2 linked regions of the Homo sapiens genome follow. The protein of the gene in region 1 interacts with the protein of each later gene in a biochemical or structural test. Each region holds a gene or a part of one and is shown in the gene's direction. Other genes may lie near its edges.

Region 1 (7,086 bases):
GTGGTCTCAGCTCACTGCAACCTTCACCTCCCAGGTTCAAGCAATTCTGCCTCAGCGTCACGAGTAGCTTGGATTACAGGCACGTTCCACCATGCCCAGCTAATGTTTGTATTTTTAGTAGAGACGGGGTTTCACCATCTTGGTCAAGCTGGTCTCGAACTCCTGACCTCAGGTGATCCACCCGCCTCAGCCTCCCAAAGTACTGGGATTACAGGCGTGAGCCACCACACCCAGCCAAAATTTTTTTTTAAAAAAGAATTTTCATTCTTTTTCCTTTCCTGGTCCTGAATAAATATTCAATCAAGTCTTTAGACTGTTGGGAAGAATGAATTGGAGAAACAGGGAGACCAGATGAATGAAACCAGACCCTTCGTCCACACATCTTGATTCCCTCTATGGTGGTGTCTTCCTCCTTCCCCAAATCATTGACTGTCCTGTCTTCCAGGTGGAGGCCACAAGCAGGAAAGAAAAGGCCAAGCAGAGGCCCCTGGCCCTGAACACTGTGGAGATGCTGCGTGTGGCCAGCTCTTCTCTGGGTATGTAGGGACATTTCTCTCAAGTCACCAGAAGGCTTCCTGAGGCAGGTTCAGCCTGGAGCAGCGAGTGCCCAGGGTTGCAGGATGGTGCCCAAGGCTTCAAGGGGATCTGAGCCTCAGGAGGATTTCACTTATCCTTAGGTTGTAAAGGTGGTAAAGTTGGTCACCACCTGAGGGGACCTCCTGATGTTAGAGTCCCTGAGCAGCTATCCCTGGTGAGGGGAGAGGCCCCAGCCAGATGTCACCTTCAGGGAACCAGTGTGAACGTCGCCCCTCAGCCTCATCTCCTCAGTCTTTTCTCCTTAGTAACGAGGAGGGGGTTGGGCTGGAAAGCTGGTGGTCTCTGGCAGCTGTCAGCCCCTAGGCATTGGTGCCCCCCACCCCCGCAGGGAACTATGGGCAGTGTCCTCTCAGTGGACACTGAGTGGTGGCTCCAGCGTCCTCAGAGGGCAGCAATGCTGGGAGTGGTTGCTAGCTAAGCGCCTGCCTCTGCTGGTCAGGGAGTAGCAGGACGAGCCCCCCTGAGTGGCCCCAAAGTGCTGTGAGGACAGAAACACCCAAGGGCTCAAAATGGGGCTGCGTGCTAACTCTGTCGTCAGCCAACCCCGAGGTATGGTTATGGCTCCATGGACAATGCATGGGGAGTGGTGCTCTGAAGGCCATGTGTCATCCCCATGGCCATGAGCCCCATGAGGATGCACCGTGGGGTAGAGTGAGTGGCGTTTCCCATCAGGCCCATCCTGGGTGTAGGATTCAGCCTTACGGGTGCGGGATTCAGCCTCATACAAGACTGTGTGGCATAGGTGCCCACCCGGCCAGCAGCTTTGCACTCCAGCTGTGCCTGCTCAGAGCCACCGTCACCCTCCAGGAGGGGCCGGCCACAATGGGGGAGCCTGAGTGCATAGGCCAGGGCAGGCAGCTGGCCATCCCCACGTACCTGGCCCTCTGAGAACCTCCTGTCTCTCGCAGGCATGGGGCCGCAGCACGCCATGCAGACGGCTGAGCGGCTCTACACGCAAGGCTACATCAGCTACCCACGGACAGAGACCACCCACTACCCTGAGAACTTTGACCTGAAGGGCTCTCTGCGGCAGCAGGCCAACCACCCCTACTGGGCCGACACGGTGAGTGGAGCCGGGCCGGCCTCAGCATGTGTGTGTGTCACTGAGGCCTTGGGACCAGGTCTGGTACGTCAGCCAAACCCAGGCAGGCAGCCGAGCCCAGCCACAGACTCTGCTCTGTCTTCTCTCCCTCAGGTGAAGCGGTTGTTAGCAGAAGGTATCAACCGCCCGCGGAAAGGCCATGACGCCGGCGACCATCCCCCCATCACCCCCATGAAGTCTGCCACAGAGGCCGAATTAGGTACCGCTCTCATCCCATACCCGGTGTGCTTCCAGGGAGGGAAGGGCGAGCTGCGACAGTGAAGGTTGCAGGCCCTGTTGGCAATGTGGGGGCTCCTTCAGCCTCTGCCTGCCCTGGCTGTGGGGATGGGGGGCCACCTGGAAGATGAGCTCCATTGCTATGGGACCAGGACAGGAGTGAAGAGGTAGCAGCAGGTGCTGTTGCAGGGAGGCAAGGGGGCAGACGCCACAGGGGACATGAATGAAACCAGGGTAGAGAGTGGCGGTGTGGGGGAGGGGGCAGCACACCTCCTACCTCCCAGCTGGCCTAAGGTGGTACCAGTGGTCCGAGTGCCAGGAGAAGGCAAATGAGGAAGGGAGAGCAGTGCAGGTAGAGACAGGAGCCACCTGTGGACAGTCTGAGTTTGAAGCAATGGTGTCATGTCACGAGACAATGGAAAGACAGGCCAATGCCTGAAGAGCAGTCCCGCCAGAAGCAGGGACAGGAGGTTGTGCAGGATGGTGGGAGCCGCAGCCAGAAAGAAACCACTGAGGCATGGAGGCTTGTGTTCCCTTCCTCCGCATTTGCTTTTTTTTTTTCTTTTTTTGAGACAGAGTCTTGTTCTGTCACCCAGGCTGGAGTGCAGTGGCCCGATCTCGGCTCACTGCAACCTCTGCCTCCCAGGTTCAAGCAGTTCACCCTGCCTCAGCCCCCCGAGTAGCTGGGATTACAGGCTCCCACCACCACACCCAGCTAATTTCTTTGTATTTTTAGTAGAGACGGGGTTTCACCATGTTGGCCAGGCTGGTCTCAAACTCCTGACCTCAAGTGATCCATCCACCTTAGCCTCCCAGAGTGCTAGGATTACAGGCATGAGCCACCACGCCCGGCCTTCCTGCACATTTTCTTTCCTCCTTCCCCAGGATTTGCAGTGTGTCCTGCACAGCGGCTCTGTAAGCAGGAGCTTGCTGCTCGAGCGAGAGTACTGGGGGCTCCTCACGGCCAGAGCCCCCAGCTGGCTCCCAACTGACTAGCCCTGGCCTGTTGCAGGGGGTGACGCGTGGCGGCTCTATGAGTACATCACCAGACACTTCATCGCCACGGTCAGCCATGACTGCAAGTACCTGCAGAGCACCATCTCCTTCAGAATTGGGCCCGAGCTCTTCACCTGCTCCGGGAAGACCGTCCTCTCACCAGGTCACACCACGGGCCCAGCCTTCCTCCTCTGTGCCTTCATGGGCAGACAAACATTCTACATCGTGTCTGGGGATGGGAGGCCCAGGGTCTGAGGCCCCGGCCACCCAGGCTGGGGACCCTGAGTGGCGGCGCATATCTCTCCAGGCTTCACGGAGGTCATGCCCTGGCAGAGCGTGCCCCTGGAGGAGAGCCTGCCCACTTGCCAGCGGGGTGATGCCTTCCCTGTGGGCGAGGTGAAGATGCTGGAGAAGCAGACGAACCCACCCGACTACCTGACGGAGGCCGAGCTCATCACGCTCATGGAGAAGCATGGCATCGGTGGGTGCGCCTGCCCAGGCCCCAGAGCCGGCTCCGTCTCCAGTACTCAGGCTTCGAGTCTACTCACAAAGCTGCCCCGCCAGCCCTGTGTGCCCAGCCCAGCACCCCTCCATGGGCTGGTATCTGGAAACTGGTGACCCAGTGTGTGGCCAGCCAGGCAGGTCCACAGCGGGCATCCCCTCCTGAGGCCTCCATTCAGGACCTGGCCTTCCCTGTGAAGGCCCAGATGTGCCCTCGTGCACTGTGGGGTGTGCACACACCGACTAACGCCCACAAGGCTGAAGATTGGCCCAGATGCCAGGTGACTCATAGAAATCATATTGGCAGTCCCCTGAGTCCACACAGCCAGCCTGGGCTGTCCTGAAATCAGGTGACAGGGAAATGAGATCTCACAGGAGCTGCTTCCCTGGGAGAGAACAGAAATGCCTGTCCCAGGCACAGGGCTCCCCAAAGGGTGACCAGGAAGTTTCCACGCAAAAATGGGCAGCCCAGGGAGTTTATCAAAGCAAAAGTGTAGTCACCAGTGCACACTCCTCACAGGAGTGGTGGCCTCACAAGTCCCCAGGCCTGGAGCTGTGAGATGTCTCACATGTTGGGGGCCAGCCTCACTGCCGGAGCCTTCTCCCCAGGTGGCACTCGCGCCGCTGGGCACTGCCTGTTCCCTGGGGCACTACCCCTGGCTGACAGGCTCTGGAGACCTGTGGGATGTCACAGCCACTGTGTCCAGGCTCTGCTCCAGCAGTGGTCATATAGGTGGACTCTCAGGGAGTGTCTCTTCCCAGGCTGGGGTCCTGGTGACCATGGCGATCTTGGCAGGAGAGCAGAGCTCTGGGCTTGCTCCTCTCAGGGGTCCAGGGCACCTGCCAGGGTCCTGAAATAGCCCTCAGCCCACTGTGGAGTGTGGGCTCTGCTCCCCCGTGTCCTCTGCCCTCTCGCATTGATGGGACACTGGCTCCTGGCAGCCCTATGCTAGCCAGTGAGCCAGACCCAATCACCAATACAAGTTTGTGACAGTGAAGAGGGCTCTGGTGTTACCTTCTGAACAGGAGAGTGGTCAGGGTGGCCCTGTGACTGAGCCCCCAGGAGTGTGTCAAAAGGGCCTGACCAGAGCCGCCACAGAGGAGCCCACACCACGCGTCATGGCGCCCGGCAGACTCGGGGTGGTAGTGGCACACGCCACCCACAGCCTGCCACACCGGGTGCAGAGCTGGCCTCGTGCCAAGAGCCATGGGCCCTCGGCAGGCTCCTTAGCCCCCAGAGGCCAGTTTCTTCCCATGTGAGATTCTCTCCGAGCTACTTTGGGAAGGTGTGTGTCACCTGTCCATGCTGGTGAGCATGCAGGGAGCCCCAGCCTCCTTTCTGCCCCTCTGACTGGCACCCGCCATAGTCAAAACGCCTCAGCCTCCGCTGCGCCCCTCTGCCAGGAAACTTCCTCTGGGTGGGAGAGTGGAATCCTGGGGACTGGGAGCCTCCCCTGGGGATCGTGACGGGCCTTGCAGAGAGGGAGGAGGTGGGAGACAGGAAGTGGACAGAATTGTCCAGGTTTAGGGGAGGGCAGCTCTGCAGTGAGCTTGTAAGCACCTCCGTGTTCTGGTGGAGTGGGGCTCTGGCTCCGGGAGCAGGTGGGTGCCACAGGACCCAGGCAGGAGAAGCCATAGAAGTCACATTTTCCAGGCGCAGAATAAGCACTGTGACCTTGGAGAGTTCCTTAACCTCCGAGCCTGTTGTCTCTGCCATAAAGCAGGAGTAGGCGCCCTGTACAGGGAGGGCTGCCCTTGTGTTCTCAAGGCAGAACATGAAATGCATGCAGTTGGTGCCCAGCACAGTGCAGGGGGAGCTCAGGGCACAGCCCTCCCTCCTGTGACCGGGAGCAGTGAGAGGGCCTGAGCACCAGGGGCCCCGTGACAGGTGATACAGCACATGGTTCAGTGGGGCATGTCCAAGGCAGGCCAGGAACCCTGGGGCCTTGTACATTGCAGGCACGGATGCCAGCATCCCTGTGCATATCAACAACATCTGCCAGCGCAACTATGTCACGGTGGAGAGCGGGCGCCGGCTCAAGCCCACCAACCTCGGCATCGTCCTGGTGCACGGCTACTATAAGATTGGTGAGTTCCTCAGTCCTGCCCCCAGGGCCCACCGAGGCTCCCTGGCTTCTCCCTGGATGTTGGCTCTGCTGCCCGCTCCAGACAGGCCCCTGCCCTACAGTGATCCCCCAGCCCCACACACACTCCCTCAACACCCGCTGAAGGGGTGCTGCCCCAGGACCCCCAGGACCTGCCCAGAGCAGGAGCTCAGTGTGTTTGAAGGCTGAACAGATGTGTGAGGGAACCAAAAAGGGAGGCGAAGTTGCCTCAGCCCTGTTCCCTGGAGGTTCCCCAGGGGCCAAGGGGAGAGGGAGGAGCACAAAACTGGCCCAAGGGCGGCCTGGAGCTCATGTGTGATGTGGTTCTAGCCACAGGACATCCCTGGCCACTCTGCCTGACATTTCCAGGTGGGAAATCAGGAAAGGTCTGGGGTCATAAGAGCCAGCCTGGTACCATCTGAGGCTGTGGACTGGTGGGTAGGGCAGAGGCCAGGAGGACGGGCCAGAGCGGGAGGGGTGAACAGGGCAGTATCCCTGCCTGGGAAGGGGTGGCATGGCCCTGGGTGCGAGTGCTCAGGGCAATATCTGCCCCCTGCCCACTTGCAGATGCAGAGCTGGTGCTCCCCACCATCCGCAGTGCAGTGGAGAAGCAGCTGAACCTGATCGCCCAGGGCAAGGCCGACTACCGCCAGGTCCTGGGCCACACCCTGGACGTGTTCAAGAGGAAGTTCCACTACTTTGTCGACTCCATTGCTGGTAGAGTCTGCCTCTGGCCTGCCCCTCACCAGAGGGGTGTCTCTCTGTCAGCAAGGCCAGTACCTGGGGACCCAGGTCCCCACGTGGGACCAGCTCCCAGATCTGGGCTTCAGGCCTCCGTAGGCCAGGTCAGTGACACCTCCTGGCTGGGTTGAAAGAGCAGGTGCATTAACACCACACATGGCCAGGAACACGTGCCTCTGACGCACAGGGCTGCTGCCCTGCCGTGCTGCCAGGACAGTAGAAACCACCGCCTATAGGGACCCTTTCACACTCAGACCCTTGACCACGTGTTGCGGAGCCTTTTGCTGGGGACTGGGAGGGAGATGACTCCTGCACTCTGCTTGCCCGCAGGCATGGATGAGTTGATGGAGGTGTCTTTCTCGCCCCTGGCGGCCACAGGCAAGCCCCTCTCACGCTGTGGGAAGTGCCACCGCTTCATGAAGTACATCCAGGTAGGTGCAGGGAACACTAGCTCAGGCAAGCTGCCTCACCCCTGTAGGCCTCAGCTTTATCGTTGATCAGCAGGAATCATGTTCTTTGTCCTGGTTGTCACAAAAGAATGATGGAACATAAAGAGGCCTTGCCAAAAAATACCCAGTGTCCCCACGTCCCCTAGAATACACAGCCATTAGGCCACGCAAACACACATGGTGCATTTTTCCCTAACACCATGCCACTTGCCATCATGGGCATTAATGTACACACAGAGATTTTAGAACTGCCTTTTCTGCACGCGTGGAGCAAGAGCCAGAGACTCATGCTCCTTGCCTGGCAGTGTGTCACAGGTTCTGCATGACAGATTACATACTTTGTATTATGAGAGGAGTGGGGGTGGGTGCCAAGTCGGTG
Region 2 (7,169 bases), on another chromosome or scaffold:
GGATGCAAATGGCTTACAGTCACAAGATGTAATTTGCCTCAGAGGGCCAGGCACTCTTATCATCTCACTTTTTATTGTAGCTTCTATTCTTACTTACCCATATTCTTTTACCCTTTTCAGTCTGAGAAACTTTTCCTTTACTAAAATGATAAGAGGCGAAACAGAGGAGAATGGATTTTCAGTCTCTCTCTTCTGTTAATTTACCACAGACTCGAAATAGATTTCATTCCTCGTTTTTGTTTTCTTGGACCTAACAATTTTTTTTTCTACCCTTAGGGTTTCCCCCAACTTCAGCTCATTGTAGACTTTCTATTTTCTGTAAATCAATGATTTATCTAATTAAAAATGGAAATTCATTTTATCTAGTTAGCTATTACCATTTTTCATGGCACTAAATTATCTATACAGAACATAATTCCAATTTAAAATTTTGATGTGAAATTAGTGTAATCCACGCTTCTTTTTATTTTGGAAAATTTCAAACCTAGAGAAAAAAAATAAACATGTGGACCCTCCTCCAACTGATTCACCCATTTTTAATATTTTGCCATATTTACCTCCTTTCTCTTTTTTCCTTTTTTTTTTTGAGACGGAGGCCCGCTCTGTCGCCAGGCTGGAGTGCAGTGGCGCGATCTGGGCTCACTGCAACTTCCGCCGCCTGGGTTCAAGCGACTCTCCTGCCTCAGCCTCCTTTCTCTTTCTTACCTATATACATGTATCAATGTTTATATGTTTTATATATTTTACAAATGTATTTCTCTTACTCATTTGCAAATAACTTGTAGATCCAATTCTTCTTCATCCATAAATGTTTTGACATAAAATTCTCAATTTAAGGACAATAACATTATCACATTTAAGAAAACCATATTCCATTATACTATCCAATATCCAGTCCAGATTCAAATTTCTGCAATTGGCCACCAGTAATTATTTTTTTCATTTATTTTTTAGATCCAGGATTGAATTTTGTTTTCATGTCTCTTGCATCTCTTAAATCTGAAATAATATTTTTTTTTTTTTTGAGACAGAGTCTCGCTCTGTCGCCTAGGCTGGAGTGCAATGGCGCGATCTCGGCTCACTGCCAGCTCGGCCTCCGGGGTTCCCGCCATTCTCCTGCCTCAGCCTCCGGAGTAACTGGGACTACAGGAGCCTGCCACCGCGCCCGGCTAATTTTTTTTTTTTTTGGTATTTTTAGTGGAGTCGGGGTTTCACCGTGTTAGCCAGGATGGTTTCGATCTCCCGATCTCGTGATCCGCCCGCCTTGGCCTCCCAAAGTGCTGGGATTACAGGCGTGAGCCCCTGCGCCCAGCCTTCTTTTTTTTTTTCTAAAGAATTATTTCTGGCCGGGCGAGGTGGCTCACGCCTGTGATCCCAGCACTTTGGGAGGCGAGGCGTGCGGATCACGAGGTCACAAGATCCAGACCATCCTGGCAAACACGGTGAAACCCGGTCTTTACTAAAAATACAAAAAATTAGCCAGGCGCGGTAGCAGGCTCCTGTAGTCCCAGCTACTCGGGAAGCTGAGGCAGGAGAATCGCTTGAACCGGGAGGCCGAGGTTGCAGTGAGCCGAGATCGTGCCACTGCACTCCAGCCTGGGCGGCAGAGCGAGACTCCCGTCTCAAAAAAAAAAAAGTCTTAAATTACATTTTAACAGTCTAGGCCAGAGGAGAATATGCCTCATTGTGGATTTATGTGCCTGCGTCTTCATGTTTAACTTGCTCAAATATCACCTATACGTCCTTTACATTTCTTCTTACATCTAGACCTTAGCATTACTGACATTCTGGGCCACATCATTCTTTGGAGTTCAGCGATGTCCTGTGCTTTGTAGGATATTTAGCAGCATTCCTGCTGCATCCCATGAGATGCATAACAACACTCCTACCTCCTCAGATTGTGACAACCTAGACATTGCTAAATGGATTTGGGGGTGTGGGGGTTGGTTTAGGATCCACTGTCCACAAGCTTGGTTAAACTCAGGTTAAACCATTTTGGCAAGAATACTTCTTAAGTGATGTGTATGTCTAGTTGCATTACATCAGTAAGCAGAATACATTAGATTGTCCCATTATTAGTGATTCTAGCTTTGATCTCTTAAGGCAGTGATTTTTTTTTTTAAAAGGTAAAGCTACATTTTCCCTTCTGTAATAAGTAAGTTATGGCTTGAAACTTTGAGACCATGTGAAGATCCTGTACTCCTAGTCTTTTACCCTGTGGCTTTTAGTATCGTCTGATAAATTTTCCTCTATCAATTGTGGTTGACTTGGAAAACTGTGATTTTTCTAATTCTATCATTTGTTCTACATTTACTATCTTGTATTGCTCTGAAAGAAAAGATTTTGTCCTCCTTCATTTTTGGTGGCACTCCGAAGAAATTCAATGTGTTTCATCAATTATTGTCACCATTTTTTGGATGCTCATGTTGTCCCACATTTCTCCAGTAAAAAACCCATTCTTTAAGAGAATTTAGTGTTTTGTGGAGTACTTTATTATTGTAAGGACCATGCAGTGGTAAATCCTTACTGAATCACACGACATGTGAGAACAAATGACTTTATAACCAGTGAGAAATTCTGATGATTGGTACAACATATTTTCATAGTTAACAGGTTACACTAACTGAAAAATGTAAATAATTGGTAACAGAAAATTCTAACCGCCAATAAAAATTATTGGCAATTTATTTTTGAGTCATCTATTTACCTTTAAAATGGCATATCTATTCCTGGCTCCTGTATATGATGGCCGATGACTATAAATTGAAATATACCTGTAGCATACGTATGACTTAAACACTGCATACTACTGCACATTGCAGCGAACAGGATGGAGCTACTTGTGATCTAAAATTATCTAAACAATATACTTGGGAGCAAATCTCAATAGCATTCCATCTAACGAAAGCATCGCGATTTTATAACTATGACTTTTGGGAAGACCAAACGGAATACCCCAGCTGAAATGAGAAAAATCTGTATTAAGGAATTTTAGCTCCACCCAGGGCAATTATCCCCTTCCTTCCGTAACTGCCAATTTCCTCCCCAATCCCAAGAGCGCCTCTGCCCAGTTCCGCAGTCTCTGCTCCAAGTCTGTTTTTGATGATGCCCTTAGAAGCAGGGGCAGCGGCAAGCGGCGGAGATAGGGATTAAGTTCCTAACAGTCTTCTTCCCCTGACCTGGCAGATGGGGACGCTGCCCCTTAGAAGCCTTTTTCCCCGCAATACGGGACGCCGCAGAGGTGAAAGACCAAGAAGGTGGAGCAAACTTTTAGGGAGCGCCTCTTGGGCCCGCGTACCCTTCCGCCTGTTCCTCTCTGATTGGCCAGCGTGAGTCACGGACGCCCAATCGCGCGGTAGCGTCCGCCGTGCCGCTGGGCGACGGCGGCGCGCATGCCCACTCAGGGACCCACCCTGCGCCCCAGCCCTCTACAGCGCGGGCGAAGGGCATCGGCGGGGAAGCGGCTGTGGTTGCCAGATCTGGCAGTACAGAGCCAAGGTGGCAGGGCCGCGCTAGGACACGGATGGTCCCAGGGGGAGGGCAACAGGAAAAACAAGCACTGACACAACTGCCCCATTTCCCCATGTCCCCTAAAAGCAGGTTTTCTTGGGCTGACCAGGGCATTTTCACTGTGGTGTCCGACTGGGGCAACTCGATCTGCCCGCGGGGACTCAAAAAAGCTTGAGCTGCATTTTTTCTTTGCGTCCGGGCGGACCAAAAGGCGAGGTGAAGGGAACGAGTGTTTATAAGAAAGTAAACTTTTGTGCAGAATGGGCTGGGGACACCTCTGAGTTTTGCTGCCCGCAACGTGACCTTTTTAGCGCGGTCCTGGACGCGTTCCCTCGCAGCCAACCCGTCAGTCTCCTCAGGCCTTATCCTGCCCTCTCTGAGGTGGCCGCCTGTGGGCGCTGCAAACGCCACACTTTTGCTCTACGAAGAACCTCCTCGCGACTTTCCAAGGTGTGCAACTCAGAAAAGCGCCCCCCAAAACAAGTAAAAGCCTTCGGGGAAGAGGCAAAGTCCCTGAACCGTCCTGACTCCAGCCACCAGCCGGTGTTTGGTGGATCAGGTCCCGGAGCTCCGCAGCCTGGGAGCCCCACACCAGGCCGGCCCCTACGGCCGCTCAGAAAACGCGGCGAGCGGAACCCGCACGCGGAAGCGCCGGCCGCACTGAGCATGCCCAGTTGCAGAGCCGACCAGAGGAGTTTTTTCTTTTCTTTTCTTTTTTTTTTTTTAAGGGGGGGGGTCTCAAGTAGGAGGCCTCCCCATCACCCCCACCCCAGCCCCCCACCACCCCCGGCCTAAGCAGCTACCATGGCCCAGGTGGCCGGCGCGGCGTTGTCCCAGGCGGGTTGGTAAGTGGCGAGTCCCGCCGGCTGCCGGGCCGCGGGTGCGGGCCGGGGCCCCAGGGAGGTTGGGTTGGGGGCGGCGGGGTGCGTGTCGGGGTAGGCGGAGGCTGTCGTCCGCCCCCGGCCTCTCCCCGGGCCCTTCGGGCCGGCTCCGCCCCCGGCGCCACGCGGAGCCCTGCGAGTTCCCCTAGGTCCCCTGGAGGCGGCGGCGGCGGCGGCCTGGGCCCCGGGCGGCGGGCCTGGGCCCCGGGCGGCGGGCGGCGGGCCTGGGGAGAGGCCGGGGGCCGCGAGCCGGGCGGGTGGCGGCCCAGACCCCGGCCGACCGGAGCGCCGGGGAGGACCTGCAGCGCCGTCCGCGCGGCTTCTCCGGGGAGGGGGTGTTTCTGCAGCGGGATCGGGAGGCGAGGGCTGGGAACGAAGTGCGGCGGAGAGGGACGAACGCGGCCGGAGCCCGCGGGCCCATAGGAAGTTGAGGGCAGAGCAGAGCACAGCCCGCGCTGCGGCCGGAGCCGCCTCTTCTTACCCCTTATTTCAAAGTACAGTGTGGACCAGTGTGAATCTGCCTTCCGCGGCACACACACAACTTCTGGAGCTAAGAATGACCGCAATGTCAACTCGTGGGGGTGCTCGGTAGAACTTTTCTTGAAAGGATGGTGTTCTGATTTTAAGAGGCCTTTCGTGTCAAGATTTTCAGGATTTGAAAACAATACAAAATTATGCGAAATTAGGCAGTTTCTGGAATTGCGGCCATTACGGTTGTAATCATCCCGTTTAATTCAGTAACGCTTTTCCCAGGCTTGCACAGGCACATTCTGGGATGAAGGGTAGGAACGGGGATGAAAAAGATTTGCAACGGCTCTCTGCAATTACTGCTTTAGGAGAAAGAGTGAGGCATTAAAAGACCAAACAAAACCAGGGGGAATAGTGATAAACCGTACGTACAGAGGAACAGATGAGTGCACTGTGGAATGGGAGGGAGAGTTACTTTCCTAAAGTGGACTTGGAAAGATGGTAAGGAAAAGGCTTTCTAGCACAGAGCTGCTGGAGATGACACAGGGAAGCGCTTATTGTTTTGCAGAACCTACACAAGATCTATATGGTTCGTGAAAGATGTGGATTTGATTTTGTGAATAAAGTTTTTGATCAGTAGAGGGATATAATCACAACTGTGCTTTGAAGAAGCCCCTCCTGATTTTAAAGGCACTTGTGTTATTATACACCCCATTTTACAGGTGAGGAGACTGAGGCAAAGAGCTGTTAAGTAACTTTCCCAAAATGACATAGCTAGAAAGTGGTGGAGTTGAATGTTGAGCACAGAGGGCCTGGCTCTGGGCCTGGTTCCTTTAACGCTTATGCGTTATTGTTGTTACAGTTTTTTCGCAGAACAGCATGGGCGTAAAAGATTGTAGAGTTAAAAACACTGTCTTCAGTTTTGTTTCTGTTCAATAGGAATCTCTTCTTTCAGTTTTTTTACCCACAAGGGTGTCCTGAATAATCTTGGATCCCTCTTTCATTTGCCTTTCTCCCCATTTCTCATTAGGTTGAGCGTTGATCCTTCACACTAGTAATATTTTCATTTACAAACTCAGTATTTTACTGCTTTCCAACATGACCCCCCCTCCTTTGGAAAGATTAGTCTCATTTTTTAGGTCCCGAACACGTGTTGACTTTGTTTTCTCTGGCCTCTTATGCTTTTCCAGGGCAGGGAAGTGAGTCTTATTTTTCTCCTTATCTGGATTGTCAAGAAATGCACCAGATTGTAGGTTCTCTGTAAAGTCTAATACAGTTGACCTTGGAATGCCCCTGCCAGTCAGAATTCTCTGGGCAGGGCCTCTGCAGAAGCTTAGGTAGAGTCCCACCCTGCTTCGTTATATTGTTATAAATCTTCAGCAATGTTATATTGTAGCATTTGCTACTTTATATTGCAACTTAACTGTTTATGTTTCTCCCACCTGTCTGTGCTGCTTCTGTATGGCAGTGACTCATAAAGGCAGTAGTAATCTGCGGGGCTAAAAACACTATCTTTCTAGGAATTGTGAGTTTCATGTAATTCCTGCTAGGTCTCGAACAGACTAGGCATGAGGATCTCCTAGGCTTTCAGGTGGCTTCTACTAGGTCTTTAATTGGGGACTTACTATGTTAAAATTTAGAATCACAAAGGTTTAAAGGCAGAAAAGAGCACTGGAGGGAAAATTTCTGACTGAAGGGCTTTCACCAACTCATTTTAGTTCTTATATCCTGAGTTTGCTCTTACACTTGGGGTTCTCTGTTAACTGTCACTGACAAACCATTTTTCTTAGTATTCAAATCTATGTACTTAGTTACTTGTAGAAGCTAAAAAGAAGTAGATGCTAAAACATGGACACACTATTGTTAAATCTGTTCTATAGGCTTCACCTAAAATAGCAGATTAGGGAAATATTTAGTGCTGAAAAGTTTACAATTCTGAAAATGTGATCTTCAGGGGGGTACAGAAGATCTATGTAGACCAATCTGTTCAAGTTTACATTATTTTTAAGCGCAGTTTTTTTCCTTCTTAAGGTTTTAATCTTCATTAGAACCCCTATAAAAATCAGTATTTTAAAATATAACTTCAAAAGTAGCTACCTGGCGGACTTAAAATAATTTTTGTTCTTCAATGGCCAGTAGCACACAAACTATTAGATTTTGCTGATTTGAACTTGAATGTTCCAGGGCTTTCTACAGAGTAGTGATAATGTTTAAATAATGCACTAAATGGTACCTTGTAAAGCTTAATTATATGCATGGAATAACTTCACGGGGAGAAGAAATTTGACTCTGAATTTATCTAGATAACAA

Evidence for each region.
Region 2: the proteins of TOP3B (region 1) and TDRD3 form a complex in vitro, tested with the Homo sapiens proteins (2 studies listed by BioGRID and IntAct, with this or other methods).

Annotation. Positions count from the first base shown.
Region 1 is NC_000022.11:21,958,735-21,965,820, reverse strand, and holds part of TOP3B (DNA topoisomerase 3-beta-1), read left to right. Parts: intron 1-445; coding exon 446-536; intron 537-1,505; coding exon 1,506-1,660; intron 1,661-1,792; coding exon 1,793-1,898; intron 1,899-2,927; coding exon 2,928-3,074; intron 3,075-3,218; coding exon 3,219-3,392; intron 3,393-5,371; coding exon 5,372-5,500; intron 5,501-6,084; coding exon 6,085-6,234; intron 6,235-6,588; coding exon 6,589-6,689; intron 6,690-7,086. UniProt on the Homo sapiens protein: Releases the supercoiling and torsional tension of DNA introduced during the DNA replication and transcription by transiently cleaving and rejoining one strand of the DNA duplex.
Region 2 is NC_000013.11:60,393,051-60,400,219, forward strand, and holds the start of TDRD3 (tudor domain-containing protein 3), read left to right. Parts: upstream 1-4,169; 5' UTR 4,170-4,314; coding exon 4,315-4,355; intron 4,356-7,169. UniProt on the Homo sapiens protein: Scaffolding protein that specifically recognizes and binds dimethylarginine-containing proteins. Plays a role in the regulation of translation of target mRNAs by binding Arg/Gly-rich motifs (GAR) in dimethylarginine-containing proteins.